Linked DNA regions of Homo sapiens. The protein of the gene in region 2 purifies or fractionates together with the protein of the main gene of each other region. This does not show direct contact. Each region holds a gene or a part of one and is shown on either strand. Other genes may lie near its edges.

Region 1 (7,275 bases), on a different chromosome or scaffold from region 2:
CACAGATGTAGAACCAAAGCAGAAAAAGGAACCACATCTTCCCTCCTGTATGCCTGCATTTCAGCTTGCAGAGATGTTCTTTCAGGTCACCTTTGTGGAGAGGGGATATTCTAGATCCCTATATTAGCCTGTTATGGCCATTACAGCATACATCCAGAACAACTTTCCTGTTCCCAAGGTAGGACGAAATAGTAGTGAAGGATGCATATACCACCTTGAGAAAACAATAAAAGATACCCTATTATGGTAACTTTTGGTGGTTTCATTACAAAAAAAAATTCTTCTTTATACCTTTTTGTGTTTCTCTAAGTTCTGGACCATGGAAACACATATTACTTTGGTATCTTTTAAAAAAATCCTTTTGTAGTGAAAGTCTTTCATTAACCTGTAACTATAACTCATTTTTCCTAACTTCTTGTATACTATTTTATTTCACAAATAATTATTCACTTCCATCATCATTTTTAAATTAACACATGCCATAGCAAGTATTCTTGCATACCCTCTGTTTCTCTCTCTTTTATTCTCTTTACTTACATTGAATATGAGGTGTGATCTATATCATGAGAGAAAGAACTTTGAGCCGGGCACAGTGGCTCATGCCTGTAATCCCAGTGCTTTGGGTGGCCAAGGCAGGTGGATCACCTGAGGTCAGGAGTTCAAGACCAGCCTGGCCAACCTGGTGAAACCACGTCTCTACTAAAAATACAAAAATTAGCTGGGTGTGGTGGCACGTGCCTGTAATCCCAGCTACTCGGGAGGCTGAGGCAGGAGAATCTCTTGAACACAGGAGGTGGAGGTTTCAGTGAGCTGAGATCGCGCCATTGCACTCCAGCCTGGGTGACAGAGTGACAGTCTGTCTCAAAAAAAGAAAAGAAAAGAAAAAAAAAAAAGAACTTTGAATTTAGAGTCATAGACCCTGGTTTTGAATTCTGGCTCCACTACTTAAAAGCTGTATGACTGTGAGCAAGCCTCTTAGCCTATGTCAGACTCAGCTTCCTTATCATAAAAGACAGATGTGGGCTGGGCGTGGTGGCTCACGCCTGTAATCTCAGCACTTTGGGAGGCCGAGGCGGGCAGATCACGAGGTCAGGAGTTCGAGACCAGCCCAGCCAACATAGTGAAACCCCGTCTCTACTAAAAATACAAAAATTAGCTGAGTGTGGTGGCATGCACCTATAGTCCCAGCTACTCAGGAGGCTGAGGTGGAAGAATCGCTTGAACCCAGGAGGCAGAGGTTGCAGTGAGCTGAAGGTTGCAGTGAGCTGAGACCACGCCATTGCACTCCAGCCTGGATGACAGAGTGAGACTCCGTCTCAAAAAAAAAAAATAAAAATAAATAAAAAATAAATAAAAAGACAGATGCTTCATGGAGATTTCTATGAGGATCAAGTGTGGCACTACAAAGGAAAGCTCTTTGTAAATCATTAATGATTATCGAGTGTTTGATCAAATTCACTGTAGACTAACCGACCCATTGCATTAAACAGAACATTCTGAGTCACTATGTGCACATCCCAACTGGGTGATAACAGTATCCTGTTTCCTTTTTCCATCTCTAACTCCATCAGTGCAGCACAGGAATTCACCTGTAAGACAAATCAAGACAAATGGGCCTTTTACCTCTCAGTTTCCTTGATCGATTCCTCAGTGGTCTCCTTGTATTCTGGAAAAGTGTCATTCAAATCCATGCAAACTTTGCCCACAAATGCCCGCTGTCCAAATTTATCTGTAAAGTATACACAAAAAGAATATGAAGGCATGTTTGTTTCTGAAACAGTACTTTTTCTTTTTCTTTTTTTTTTTTTTTTTGAGACGGAGTCCCGCTGTTTAGCCCAGGCCAGATTGCAGTGGCGCAATCTCGGCTCACTGCAAGCTCCGCCTCCCAGGTTCATGCCATTCTCCTGCCTCAGCCTCCCGAGTAGCTGGGACTACAGGCGCCCGCCACCGCGCCCGGCTAATTTTTTGTATTTTTAGTAGAGACGGGGTTTCACCGTGTTAGCCAAGATGGTCTCGATCTCCTGACCTTGTGATCCGCCCGCCTCGGCCTCCCAAAGTGCTGGGATTACAGGCGTGAGCCACCGCGCCCGGCCAAAACAGTACTTTTTCTAAGCTTTCAACAGTAATTTTTAAATTAAAATCATATATGGAAAACATAAATGAAAATGTAAAAGATCATCCACCATCACACCACTTAAGAACAAGAACCACCACAAATTCCCTACTATATTCAGTAAACAGTAAAAGTTTTTCTATTCATCACTTTAACCCACTACCTCCCCCATCCCCATTCTCAGGCTGTCAGGTGGGTTTTTTGGTTTTTTTGTTTGTTTGTTTGTTTTGTTTTTGAGACGGAGTCTCACTCTGTCACCAGCCTGGAGTGCAGTGGCGTGATCTGGGCTCACTGCAACCTCCAACTCCCTGGTTCAAGTGATTCTCCTGCTTCAGCCTCCTGAGTAGCTTGGATTACAGGCACGCACCACTGTGCCCAGCTAATTTTTGTATTTTTAGTAGAGACAGTGTTTCACCATGTTGGCCAGGATGGTTCGATCTCCTGACCTTGTGATCTGCCTGCCTGGGCCTCCCAAAGTGCTGGGATTGCAGGCGTGAGCCACTGTGCTTGGCTGGGTGTTTTTAAGTTATTATTCAGTTTTTCCCTTTGCTTATCCAGTGTGTCTATATTTTCATTAAATATGTAACTATCTTTGCTCTCATTTTATCACATGGTAAAGGAGCAAACAGTCTCAGGTCCTAAAGAAAGACTCTCTTAGTCATTGGCATACCTACACTCAGCTTCTTCTACCCCAACTTACAATCTCCCTCCTGTCTCCTACTCTACCACCATCCCTTGGATCTCTCTCTCTCCCTCTCTCTATCATGGTCCTCTTCTAGACAAAACACAGAATGGCTGAGGGATAAGAACATGAGCACTGGAATTGGAAAGATTTGGACTGATTCCTTATTCCTCTGATTACTCCAGGTGGTGGATATTATTTGGTTAAGGTCTAAACCTATATATGTACAGTGTTCTCTGCTATGTGTAGGGTTGTGAGGAATACATGCAATAATATATATAAGGTGTCAGGCATGTGGTTATCTAGGCAACATACTGCTACTATTCTTTTTTTTTTTTAAGGTGGCGTCTCACTCTGTCGCCCAGGCTGGAGTGCAGTGGCACAATCTCAGCTCACTGAAAGCTCTGCCTCCTGGGTTCACGTCATTCTCCTGCCTCAGCCTCCTGAGTAGCTGGGACTACAGGCGCCCACCACTACGCTTGGTTAATTTTTTGTATTTTTAGTAGAGACAGGGTTTCACCATGTTAGCCAGGATGGTCTCAATCTCCCGACCTCATGATCCGCCCGCCTCGGCCTCCGAAAGTGCCAGGATTACAGGCATTAACCACCGCGCCTGGCCATACTATTCTTAACTGAAACAATGCCAATATTATCTGTGAGGAATTTTACGCAGTCTTACTAGCAGCTCTCAGCACTAGAACCTAGTCCTCATCAAAGGTGCTGGAAGAATTCTATTTCAGCAAGAAAGCTGAGGCTATATGGGACAATGGTAATTGTTTTTACAGTGTCTCCATCTCTGTCATAAGAGATTTTTAAAAACCTTTCTGCCTCTCTCCTTCCCCTGTAATTCATTTAGATAACTGGCCATTAGATTAATCTTCCTTAAAATACCACTTTCATCACATCACTCACACCTGGACTCAGAACCTTTTTTGAGTCTTTGGTGCATATTTGAGCTCTTCTACAATGTGAACCCTCCCATCTGCCTACCCTCTTCTCCCACTGCCCCCAGGCGATGAATCCACTCCTCTAGTTAAACTACTGTGGTCCCTGCATCCACTATTGACACTCCTGTTCCCATACCTGTGTCCTTCCCCTATCTAGAAGACAGTTTGTCCTCTCCTCATCTTGTCTTTACTTCAAAGCCCAGTTTAAAGGACCCTTTCATAAAGCCTTCCCAGATGTCGTAGTTCTGGGTTCTCTTTGCCTTCTCTGAAGACTGTAGTATCTATTTTCAGAGTCACCCATTAGGTCAGGTCTTTTGCATAAGCAAACAGTGGCATCAGTGTATCAGCCAACAGTATTTACTGAGCACCTGCTATGTGCCAGGTACTGTGCTGGGTACAAGTTTTGGAATCATCAACCCGAATCCAGAATCAGCTCTTCTTACTAGCTGTGCAACCCTGGGCATGTTACTTATCCTCTCTGAGCGTCAGTCTAACCATCTGTAACATGAGGACATCAGTAACCACTTCAGAAGGCTGTTTGCTGCTGAACTAATTCTTCCAGAGTGCTTTGCACAATGCTAGACGTCTAGTAACAGCACCATAGTTGTTACTAAGGTTAGTGATCAATGGTGTAGGTATTCTGTCTGGCTTCTCAAGGGCAGAGACTATTTTTTATCTCATTGCGTTTCCAGCATCTAGCACAGTGCCCTGACTCTAGCCAATAGCCACCATGTATCTGCTGATATAAGAAACTATTACCACAACTAGAATTAGTAAAGTTTCCCTAAAAAGCCCTAAATTAATACACAAAATTCAGACTCATATATATCATTCTGTAACCAAAAATTGTAAGTAAATAATCAGAGTACTTAGAAAATAGAAAACACTCTATGATACAGTTTTCTATTTTCTAAGTACTTTAGAAAATTTCCTAAGGGCCACAGTGACATATAGACACGTAATTACTTGCAAAAAATGTAATGCTCATGTTCTAGCAATTAAAAGGCAGGTCTGCCCAAAAGTACATATAAGTTGTTTGCCACGATGGTCTGGCTGTCTTTGCTTGAGGTGCCCATAAATCATGCTTCATTTGCTCACCTGTAATGTCGGCAAGGAGCAGAGATGAGTCAGTGTGAATTGTTGCAAAGTAACAAGCTGTGGTTGTTCCATTCTTTAGTGTTCTCCTCTAAAAATAAATCACAAAAACCGCGAATCACGTGTGCTCAGAAAAGTCACATGGTACATCCAGAGGAAAACAGAATTTTAGTTTTTAATTTTAAAATGTTTTTATTTAAAGGTATGCCATCTTGATGTAGAGTACAGTTAGGTAAATGGCAAAAGGTATTTATATTCCAAAAGTTAGCTGGAGGAGAAGCTGATACTTCTGATTTTTTCTCGATTCACACAGTTCTGTGCTTCAGAATTCATTAAAATGTGATACTAATGAATTCCTTCTTTCTTAGGATTGTTTAAGGATATCCAAATTTTATTGCATCTGGGAGTACATAAATAAGTTTTTCTTCTACTACAGAATAAAAATATTCAGCCAGACTTTAGCTCAACCTGGAAGGTTAATCACATATATCTATCTCCTTTCCTTCGCAAACTACAACAAACATGACAGTAAAGGAGTACAAACGTTATTAACCCACAAGAAGAACATGAGAGGAGAGACATGAGCAGAGAAAACATTTCAATATCTTCTTGGAAGACAAAAAACATGGACGAGAACCTGGAAGCAACTTGGAAAGAAGGAGAGAAGTGTGTGGGTTTTAGCAGGGGACTGGCTGGAAGTCTATGCAGGTATGATTAAACCCTGGCAGGAACCTTGTTGAAATCAGCCAACCACCCTTAACTTCTTCCTTATAAGAGAGATTTACTCTTTATAGAACCTGGATAGTATTTAGAGGGTACAAGCTCCAAAAGAGAAGGTAAAGCAGAGGTTTAAGTGAAAATCTGGCTGACCTCAAGGGCACTCAGTCATTTTCCCCAGAATACCACGTGTACTACTCCCACAACTCCTGGCAGGGGACTAAACGATTATTTTCTAGAGAAAATGAATGGCTCTAAAAGAAAGATGTCTTCACAGTGACGTTTGGGACCCAAATTCACTGCCTTCACTACTCATCCTATAATGAAGTTACCATCAACAAGTGATACCTCCACCCAGAAATTCCAGTCAGCACCTTATAGCATCACAGTATGAATGTATGTCCAGGGTTTGATAGGCATTGGAGGGAATCTATTATCAAAAAGATAAGGAGGGGGAGAAAGAATCTGGAAAAAATCTTAGAGGAAACATAATCTATAAGGTCAGAAAAAAGCTCAGTTAAAAAAAACAACTATGACTCACATCCTCAAAGAAATAAAACACACTATTGCACCCACAAAACAAGAACAGAATGCTATGAAAATCAGAATGCAGGAGCTCTCCAAAAGTAAAAATATTATAAATGAAATGTGGAAGCCAGTAGGAGGGTTGTAGGATAAATTACAAGAGAATTGCTCAGGAAAAGGAAAAGATGAAAATCAAAGGTGAGAACATAAGAAAATTAGGCTCAATCTAGGCAATCCAACATTTAGAATAAGAAATCTAAATTTTTTTAAATAAATGGAAGGGACAAAAATATGAAAAATAATATTCATCTCCAAAATTAAAATCCTCATAGAATTGTCAGCACAGGGAATAAAAAGAGAACCCAAAGTAAGGCATATAATTGTGAGATATTAAGTTCGTAAGTACAGAAAAGATGCTAAAAACTCCAGGAAAAAAAAAAAAACTGGTCACAGATAAATGACAGGACTCACAACGACATTGGATTTCTCACTAACAATGCTGGAAGCAGAACAATGCCTTCAAATTCAACTCATATATATCATTCTGTAACCAAAAATCCTAAGTAAATAATTAAAGTACTTAGAAAATAGAAAACGCTCTATTATATAGGTTTCTATTTTCTAAGTACTTTAGAAAATTTTCTAAGGGCCACAGTGATACACAGACAATTAAGTACTTGCAAAAAATGCAATGCTCATGTTCTAGCAATTAAAAAGGAGGTCTTCCCACAAGTACATATAAGTTGTTTGTCACAACAGGAGTTATTTTTAACATATAATTTTATACCTTGGTAAATTATCAATCAAGTGTGAAGGTAGCATAGAAATATGATTAAGTACCGAAGGACTTGAAAATTTTACTCTCCATGAACTCTTTCTTAGGAAGCTTTTAGAAACTGTCTTTTAGTAAAACACAAGAGTAATCCAAAGTAATTCCTGGATCCAGGGAGTGGGCATTAAACGCAGGAAAGAGGCAAAGAGAATGCCAAGATTACAGTAGTGCTACAGAGAATGCTGACCAGAAACAAGAGAATGGGAGGAGGTGAGAAGATCTTCAAGAAAGAAAATGGAACGGATATTGCCTGACCTGTCTGAGCACTTGGAAAAAGGACTAGTGGATTGAATACTTTGGGGCATATCTTTAGCAGAAGCTTTTAAATGCAGAGGAAAACCCTCCAGACAGTGGCTCTTGCTTA
Region 2 (7,656 bases):
ATGACAAACGTGATCTTTGCTGCTTTTGCCCAAGCACTTATTTTGCCAGTCCAGTCATAGTGAAATGTGGGATGCCATTTCTAAGAGCACATATTAAGGGACTTTTTAAAAGGAGGAACCTTCACGAAATACTTCACTTCCTAAAGGCTTTATTGGATGAAATCTTCAGAGACCAGCTAATGCTCAACTTAAAGGTTTTCTTAGAAAATGTTCAACCATCCAATCCTGTTATCATTAATACATTTTAATTTATATGAAAACAATGAGTTTCTCATAATTAAGGTAAGATTCTTATGCTTCATCCAAATGGCTTGATAAGAAAAAAATGCAAACAAACCATGAATAGTTTCAAGGAAGATAGAGAAATAATCATAAGGGCTGTAAGCTCTTTGTAGTCAGGAATGATGCTTCTTGTCTAGCAGTACTACAGGTGGAACATATTCAATAATATTAAAAGATTATTTGATGGTAATACTGATTTACCATAATGTTTTTATTCTAAGTTGTTTCATATTAATAAATCAATGCTGTGTGTTACAGGACAGTTTTTAATAAGTTTAGTCTGGGTATAGATAGACTGATTTTTCCATTAAGTACTGACTAGACTGAGAAAGTAAGTACTTCTTTTGGACGTGGGGGACCAAGAAACACCTTTGTCATTACATAACCATACAAGGTACACATACTTTTTACTTGTCAAATAATCAGTCAGTGCTTTTCCCTCCTAAAGATATTTATTCTTCAATGGTGTATCTGAGAGACAGAATGTCCTGGGTAGCCTGTTTTTTTCCACAGATTTCATCCAAGATATCAGAAATCTATCTCTTTCAAAGTTTACCAAGTAAATATTTGTCTGCAAGGCAAGTAAATTAAACAAAGGGAAGAAAGGAAAACAATTATCATTAAACAGTATTACCATTCTATTGAAAAATGGTTTCATTTGAAAATAGATGTATTTTAAGAAGTGAATGGTAACTAATGGAGGAAATCAGCATGTGTTCAGGTAGAAGTGCAGCAGCCCTGGGCACCATCCCCTTGCCACTGGGCATACCTTGTCTAACCAGTGATAGAGCTGAACCACATGGTCCTGTCCCCCTGTCAAAAGTTATGGTTAGTTTAATCCTTGCTCCTCGGGAGGCTAAGGCAGCAGGATTGCTTGAGTCTAGGAGTTTGAAGCCAGCCTGGGCAACATAGCAAGATCCTGTCTCTTAAAAAAAAAGTTATGGTTATATGTGTGTGTGTGTGTGTATGTGCACGCGTGTGTGCGTGTGTGTGTGTGTATTTGGAGTCTCCTCTGTCATCCAGGCTGGAGTGCAGTGGTGCCATCAAAGCTCAATGCAACCTCGAATTCCTATGCTCAAGCTATTCTCTCACCTCAGCCTCCCAAGTAGCTAGGACTAAAGGCGTGCCCCACCATGCCTATTTTTATTTTTTGGAGAGACAGGGACTCACTATGTTGCACAGGCTGGTCTCAAACTCCTGGCCTCAAGCGATGCTCTTGCCTCAGCCTGTAACCCAAAGCCCTGGGATTACAGGGGCATGAGCCTAGAATTTATTAAGCCTTTTATTTTTAACATGAATGTTTTTCTTTTATAAAATTTATACAGGTTAGCAAGTATATATTCCTTGGTACAATTATTTGGTTAATGTTTGTCTCCCCTTTCATGGCAACAAAGACTGTACTGTTTTGCTTACCAATGTATTCACAGGGGCTGACATTATTGTAGGTGCTCAGTATATAGTACGTTTGTTAGAGAATATATGAGAATGCAGAAAGAAATGGATGGAAGACAGGGCTATAGAAATGGAAGGAAAAAGTAAACCATGGCCTCTTCAAAACAGTTTACGTATCTGCTGTTAAGACTATTGCTGATGCTGGAGCCATTTAAAGCCATTTTGAAGCAGGACATGCTTGCTAAGGAAATTGTCATTATATGTTGTCCCAATGAAAAAAAATAAATCGAAGTACTGTGGTATCTTTACTGTTCTATGTAAGTTCTATGTAAGTTCTCAGGGTTTGGCTATTTATTTGGTAAAAGAAGCTTACAGTATCCTAACTTGTTATTTATACATTGCTCCTATCCCATTTCTAGGCTTGAGTCTTTGATAACCATCCTTTTCCTCAAGATGAAATTTCATATGAAAAACACTTGAGCCGGCCGGCACGGAGGCTCACGCCTGTAATCTCAGCACTTTGGGAGGCCGAGGTGGGCAGATGATTTGAGGTCAGGAGTTCTAAACCGGCCTGGCCAACATGGTGAAATCCCGCCTCTACTAAAAGTACAAAAATGAGCCGGGTGTGGTGGTGAGCGCCTGTAATCCCAGCTACTCGGGAGGCTGAGGCAGGAGAATTGCTTGAGCCGGGGAGGTGGATGTTGCAGTGAGCAGAGATCGCGCCACTGCACTCCATCCCAGGCAACTGAGCGAGACTCCTTCTCAAAAAAACAAACTCCGGGCGCGGTGGCTCACGCCTGTAATCCCAGCACTTTGGGAGGCCGAGGTGGGCGGATCACGAGGTCAGGAGATTGAGACCATCCTGGCTAACATGGTGAAACCCCGTCTCTACTGAAAATACAAAAATTAGCCGGGCGTTGTGGTGGGCGCCTGTAGTCCCAGTTACTCAGGAGGCTGCGACAGGAGACTTGCGTGAATCCGGGAGGCGCAGCTTGCAGGGAGCCGAGTTTGCGCCACTGCACTCCAGCCTGGGCGACAGAGCGAGACTCCGTCTCAAAAACAAAAAACAAAAAAACAACAACAAAAAAAGAAAAACACTTGAGCCATGGGCCAGACATATCAACCCAAACACTGATTGATTACAAACCTCATATGTGACACCTAACAATAGGATCTCTCACTTTCTCCTTTGCAAGTACCGGACTCCTTCGTCTTCCTACCAGACTCCTCTTTGGGCATTTAACCAGTTCTTTTGCCAACAGCATCTCTAAATTGGGATTGCATCTTTGTAATAGACTAAACTTTTGTGAAACTGCCACATATCTGGAATATAAGTGAATTGTGTTACTCTTGTCCCCAGTGTTTCTTTTTTCCTTTTTCTTTCTTTTTTTTTTTTTTTTGAGACAACGTTTCATTCTGTTGCCCAGGCTGGAGTAAGTACAGTGGCTTGATTTCAGCTTACTGCAACCTCCGCCTTCCAGGTTCCAGTGATTCTCCTGCCTCAGCCTCCTGAGTAGCTGGGACTACAGGCGCACACCACCCTACTCGGCTAATTTTGGTATTTTTTTTTGTAGAGACAAGGTTTCACCATGTTGGCCAGGCTGGTCTCGAACTGCTGACCTCAAGTGATCCACCGGCTTCGGCCTCCCAAAGTGCCGAGATTACAGGCATGGGCCACCGCGCCTGGCCATCCCCAGTGTTTCTAAACGTGTCAAGTGTGATCCAAATTTCAAAGGTTTGGATTTTTTCTTAGATGACCTGATAACTTAGATTCTGCTTTTTTAGCTTTCTTGTCTCAGTGTACTGGACAATTTGCATTATTTCACGGAGGGCTCAACACTGTCAGTCAGCCAACAACGTCTCATCCCCAGGATACACCACTCCTTGAAACTTTCTTTTCTACTTGGTCAGTCTGTTAGGTTCTCAGGACGAGCGATTGCAGACCTGAGGTGATTTGAATGTCCTTGGTAAGAATCTATCCTCAAAGGGCCTTCCTGCTTCAAATGCCAGGTTATAGAAATTCTTCCACTGGGAGAGTTATTCCTTTGGATTAAAGCAGTACCGTGCCAGTGTTCTGCATTTTACATTTAAGGGGGGCAGACACATGAAGTCACCTTTCTGAGGTTTTCTGCAAAAGATTAGCTGTGGATCAGATCAGGTCTAGGGCAAGTATGAAAGCACTAGTGACCTTGGGGAGGGGGAGGAAGCTCTGGGATTCGGCGCTAGGGAAAAGTGGAAGAGGACAAACTTTTAAAAAATCCGTTACTGGGTATAGGCCACAGAGTGTCTTTCAGATTACAAGATTTTAAGATCTGGTGCTCAGACTCTTCTTGCTATGCTCCCCCCGGGTCCACCCTCCAGCCTCCCCCAGGCCCGCCTTTCTTCCGCAGCCCCGTGCCGGTCTTCGATCCCCACCTCTCCAGAAGAGCGCCGGCGGCTGCCGCGTACCTCCTTCCCCGCCTCTCCCACCGCGCAGCGCCGCGGGCCGGCGCCGCGCTTCCTACAGTCCTACGAAGGGGAGTAAAGCAGAAGACTAGCGCACTCTCCCTCAATTGTCACCCTCCAGCTTTTTCCCCCGTGCCCAAGGCTTTCGGTCACCTCTTCATAAATAATAAAAACCAGAGTCCAGAACCTGAATAGGCAACCGCTGATCGGTCCAGCTCGCTTCCCCGCCAGTGAAAAGCAATCTTATTTCAGCGTCAACGCTCTATGTCTTGCAGTCCGATTTCGGCTGACACACCCGTGCCGCTGTCCCCGCGCCGGGCCCTCGAGTCCTGTCACCTCGGGCAGCCTGCGCCTGGCTCTGGGGCCTGGGCCTCTCCCCTCCTCCTGCCCGCGGACCTTGCCGCCCCGCCTCCAGCCCGTGCCACGGCGGCCGCCATTGGCGCGGGCCCATCCCAGAACGGCGCCCATTGGCCCGGTGCGAAGCCATTCACCCAGCGCATTCCGCCGCCCGCAGGCTTGCGGGGAAACTTCCTTATTATTGTGACGCCGAAAACGGAGAAACCCCGGGTCCGGCGAGAGGGGCTGTGACAGTCGGAGTCCCAAGCTGCGGTTCGGCTGCTGCCGAGGTGCGCAGGGCGGGGGCCGGGGTTCCAGGGAGGGGGGTACGGCGGAGCTGCAGCCGCGCTGGGCCGCGTTCCGCCTGGCACTGCAGTCAGCGCGCGGCTCCCGGAGGGGCGGCTGCGGCTCCTCCCGTGGCTCCGGCGGCGGGGGCTGCAGGCACCTCCAGAGACGACCTGGGTCTGGGGCGCGGGGAGGTTGGGGCGCGGCGCCCTTAGTACCCTGCGTACGCCTCCCTGGCGTTCTCGTGGGCTCGCCCTCCGGTCAGAGAGCCCCGCGCCGGGAAAGGCGAGACAAGCCTTCAAAATGGGAGCGCCTCCCGCCCGCGCTCGGCCGCCCTCCCGCCCTGCCGCCCGGGAGGAATTGCGACGCAGAAAGTCAAAAGGAGGATAGTCCCTATGCTCGCCCCCTGCCCCTATTTAAATTCTGGGGTTCCAGGGACCTCCGTGCAGTGAGGGGCGCGGACGCTTTCAATTGAAATGGGAGCTGGCGAGGCCCTGGCATTTTGGGGAACCTCAGCGGCCGCGAGGAGTTTGCGCCGAGGACGCGGTGCACGGCGTCCGCGATGACAGCGCCGGCAGGGCTGCGGGGCCCGGCACCACCCACTTCGCGGAGGCCGGGCCGGCTCGCCTCTCCCGGGTCCGCCTCCTGGGCGGGGCCGGGGGCGAGGGTGTGTGCGGACACGTGTGTACGGGTGTGTGTGTGTGTGTACGCCGACACGTCGGTGCGGACCGACGCGGGGGTGTCAGGAGCTGGGACGGCCGGGGGCAGGTGAGACTTGAGTCATTTGTGAATGTGTGGAGTGGGCAAACCAGGGCAACCAGACCGAGAGGAGCATGTGTAACCTGAAACAGGTGAGCCTATGGAGACAGTACCTAATGCGACTGTGCACGGAATATGTGTATGCAGCATGAGCTCCAGGGAATAAGTATTTGAACTTTGCTGTTGGTCTGTCACTGTTTCTGGCTGCTTTCTGATTGCATTTTACATCAGCTTTCAAATGAGCTCAATTAGGAAGTACCTAATTCAGAGAAAAGCCTTCCAGGATTTTGCTTGCATTCATCACGCATAGAATGCTTTGGGAAAGACGATTCAAGAGCTCTCTTCCATTTGTATGTGTCTTCTGGCTCTTTCCACAAATAAGAAGCTATTTCTAGAACCTTTTATTTGATGATTAGATAAGATCAAGTGAGCTGATTTTTCAACTCTAGACTTGAGAGAAATGAAAAAATAAAAAGTTTTAAATGCGGTGATCGGGTATCATGTTTTAGTCGGCAGATTACTGTGAAGCTCTCTCCTTTTGTACTTTCCTTTACCCTGGGGGAGGAGGGAGTAGCATTATAAATCAGAAAAGCAAAGTACATGGATTGCATATCCTAAAGCAAAATAATTGAATTACATATTTTACATCATGGTCGTACCGCCTTCGAGGCTAGGAACTTTCTGTAAAAAGTATAATGCAGGGAACAAGGAGGACAGGTTAGAAACCTCTTTGGCAGAACTCCTTTGGCATGAAAAACAAAATTAGCACATTAGCACTAGCATCCAGTTCTTGTTCAGTAAGTAGCTGGAGTTTACTTTTTGAAAAAGAAACAGGGATTTCAGAATGTTCCATGTTGTGTGCTTGAAGCCATTCGTTATAGCATTTCATTCTGAAGACCAAATTTAAATTTCTTAAGATTTGTATGACCAATTAAAAACTTTTTTTATACTTAATGAGAGTAGTAGTACCCCTACTGGAGACACAAGATAGTTATGCTTCAGTTTTATAAGTAAAAGTACTATTCTCCAGATCGAATGGGATTTTCTGCATAGAGAGGTAGAAATAAAGTTATGACAATATCTTTTCTTTCGAGATGGGGGGTCTCGCTCTGTTGCACAGGCTGGAGTGCACTGGTGCGATCTCGGCTCACTGCAACCTCCGCCTCCCAGGCTCAAGCGAATCTGCCACCTTACCCTCCAAAGTAGCTGGGACCACAGGCGTGCACCACCATGCCCAGCTAATTTTTTGTAGTTTTTGGTTTCGCCAAAAGACGAAACGGGGTTTTGCCATGTTGCTCAGGCTGATCTCCAACCCCTGGGCTCAGGCTGTCCACCCGCCTGGGCCTCCTAAAGTGCTTGACAAAAATATCTTAAAATCATGGAGGACTTTTTCTTTTGAGATACTTTAGGTATCTCTCTGAGATGATCTCTTCTCATTTTGCATGATGGAGGATGTGGTAATGAAAAGGGAAAGACCGGGTGCAGTGACTGGCTGGGCGCAGTGGCTCACACCTGTAATCCCAGCACTTTGGGCGGCTTGAGACGGGTGGATCACTTGAGGTCAGGAGTTGGAGACCAGCCTGACCAACATGGTGAAACCCCTTCTCTACTAAAAATAGAAAAATTAGCTGGGCGTGGTGGCGGGCGCCTGTAATTCCAGCTACTTGGGAGGCTGAGGCAGGAGAATCGCTTGAACCTGGGAGGCAGAGGTTGCAGTGAGCCGAGATCGGCCACTGCACTCCAGCCTGGGTGAAAGAGCCAGACTCTGTCTCAAAAAAAAAAAAAAAAAAAAAAAGAAAAGGAATGAAAGGAGACAGTCTTCATAACAGTTGTGGCAAAACAAGCTGCTATGTGTCATACATGGAAAAATAAAGAAAATAGACAAAATTTAATTATTTTCCAAAATTTTCTCTAACAAAAATGGGAGATTTTAAAGTAATTCCATTTTTACTACTCCCTATCAAATGTCAGGAATTTTTATAAGGTGATATCTATATCTCTAGTTCACTTTTAGAGGTGATTGATGTCTTTATAACTGGTTAGAGGTTATCTTACTGGTATTTAACCAAACTCCTGTCTTGAGATACAATGCGTGGGGAATATTCAAGATTGAGTAATTTAAAGATATTCTTATTTTCAGAGGTTAACTCCTGTCTT

The links.
Region 1: the proteins of HERC3 (region 2) and GDA purify together in Homo sapiens (affinity purification with mass spectrometry; 2 studies listed by BioGRID and IntAct, with this or other methods). This does not show direct contact.

What each region holds. Positions count from the first base shown.
Region 1 is NC_000009.12:72,208,340-72,215,614, reverse strand, and holds part of GDA (guanine deaminase), read right to left. Parts: intron 4,929-7,275; coding exon 4,841-4,928; intron 1,730-4,840; coding exon 1,624-1,729; intron 1-1,623. UniProt on the Homo sapiens protein: Catalyzes the hydrolytic deamination of guanine, producing xanthine and ammonia.
Region 2 is NC_000004.12:88,587,830-88,595,485, forward strand, and holds the start of HERC3 (probable E3 ubiquitin-protein ligase HERC3), read left to right. Parts: upstream 1-4,650; 5' UTR 4,651-4,745; intron 4,746-7,656. UniProt on the Homo sapiens protein: E3 ubiquitin-protein ligase which accepts ubiquitin from an E2 ubiquitin-conjugating enzyme in the form of a thioester and then directly transfers the ubiquitin to targeted substrates.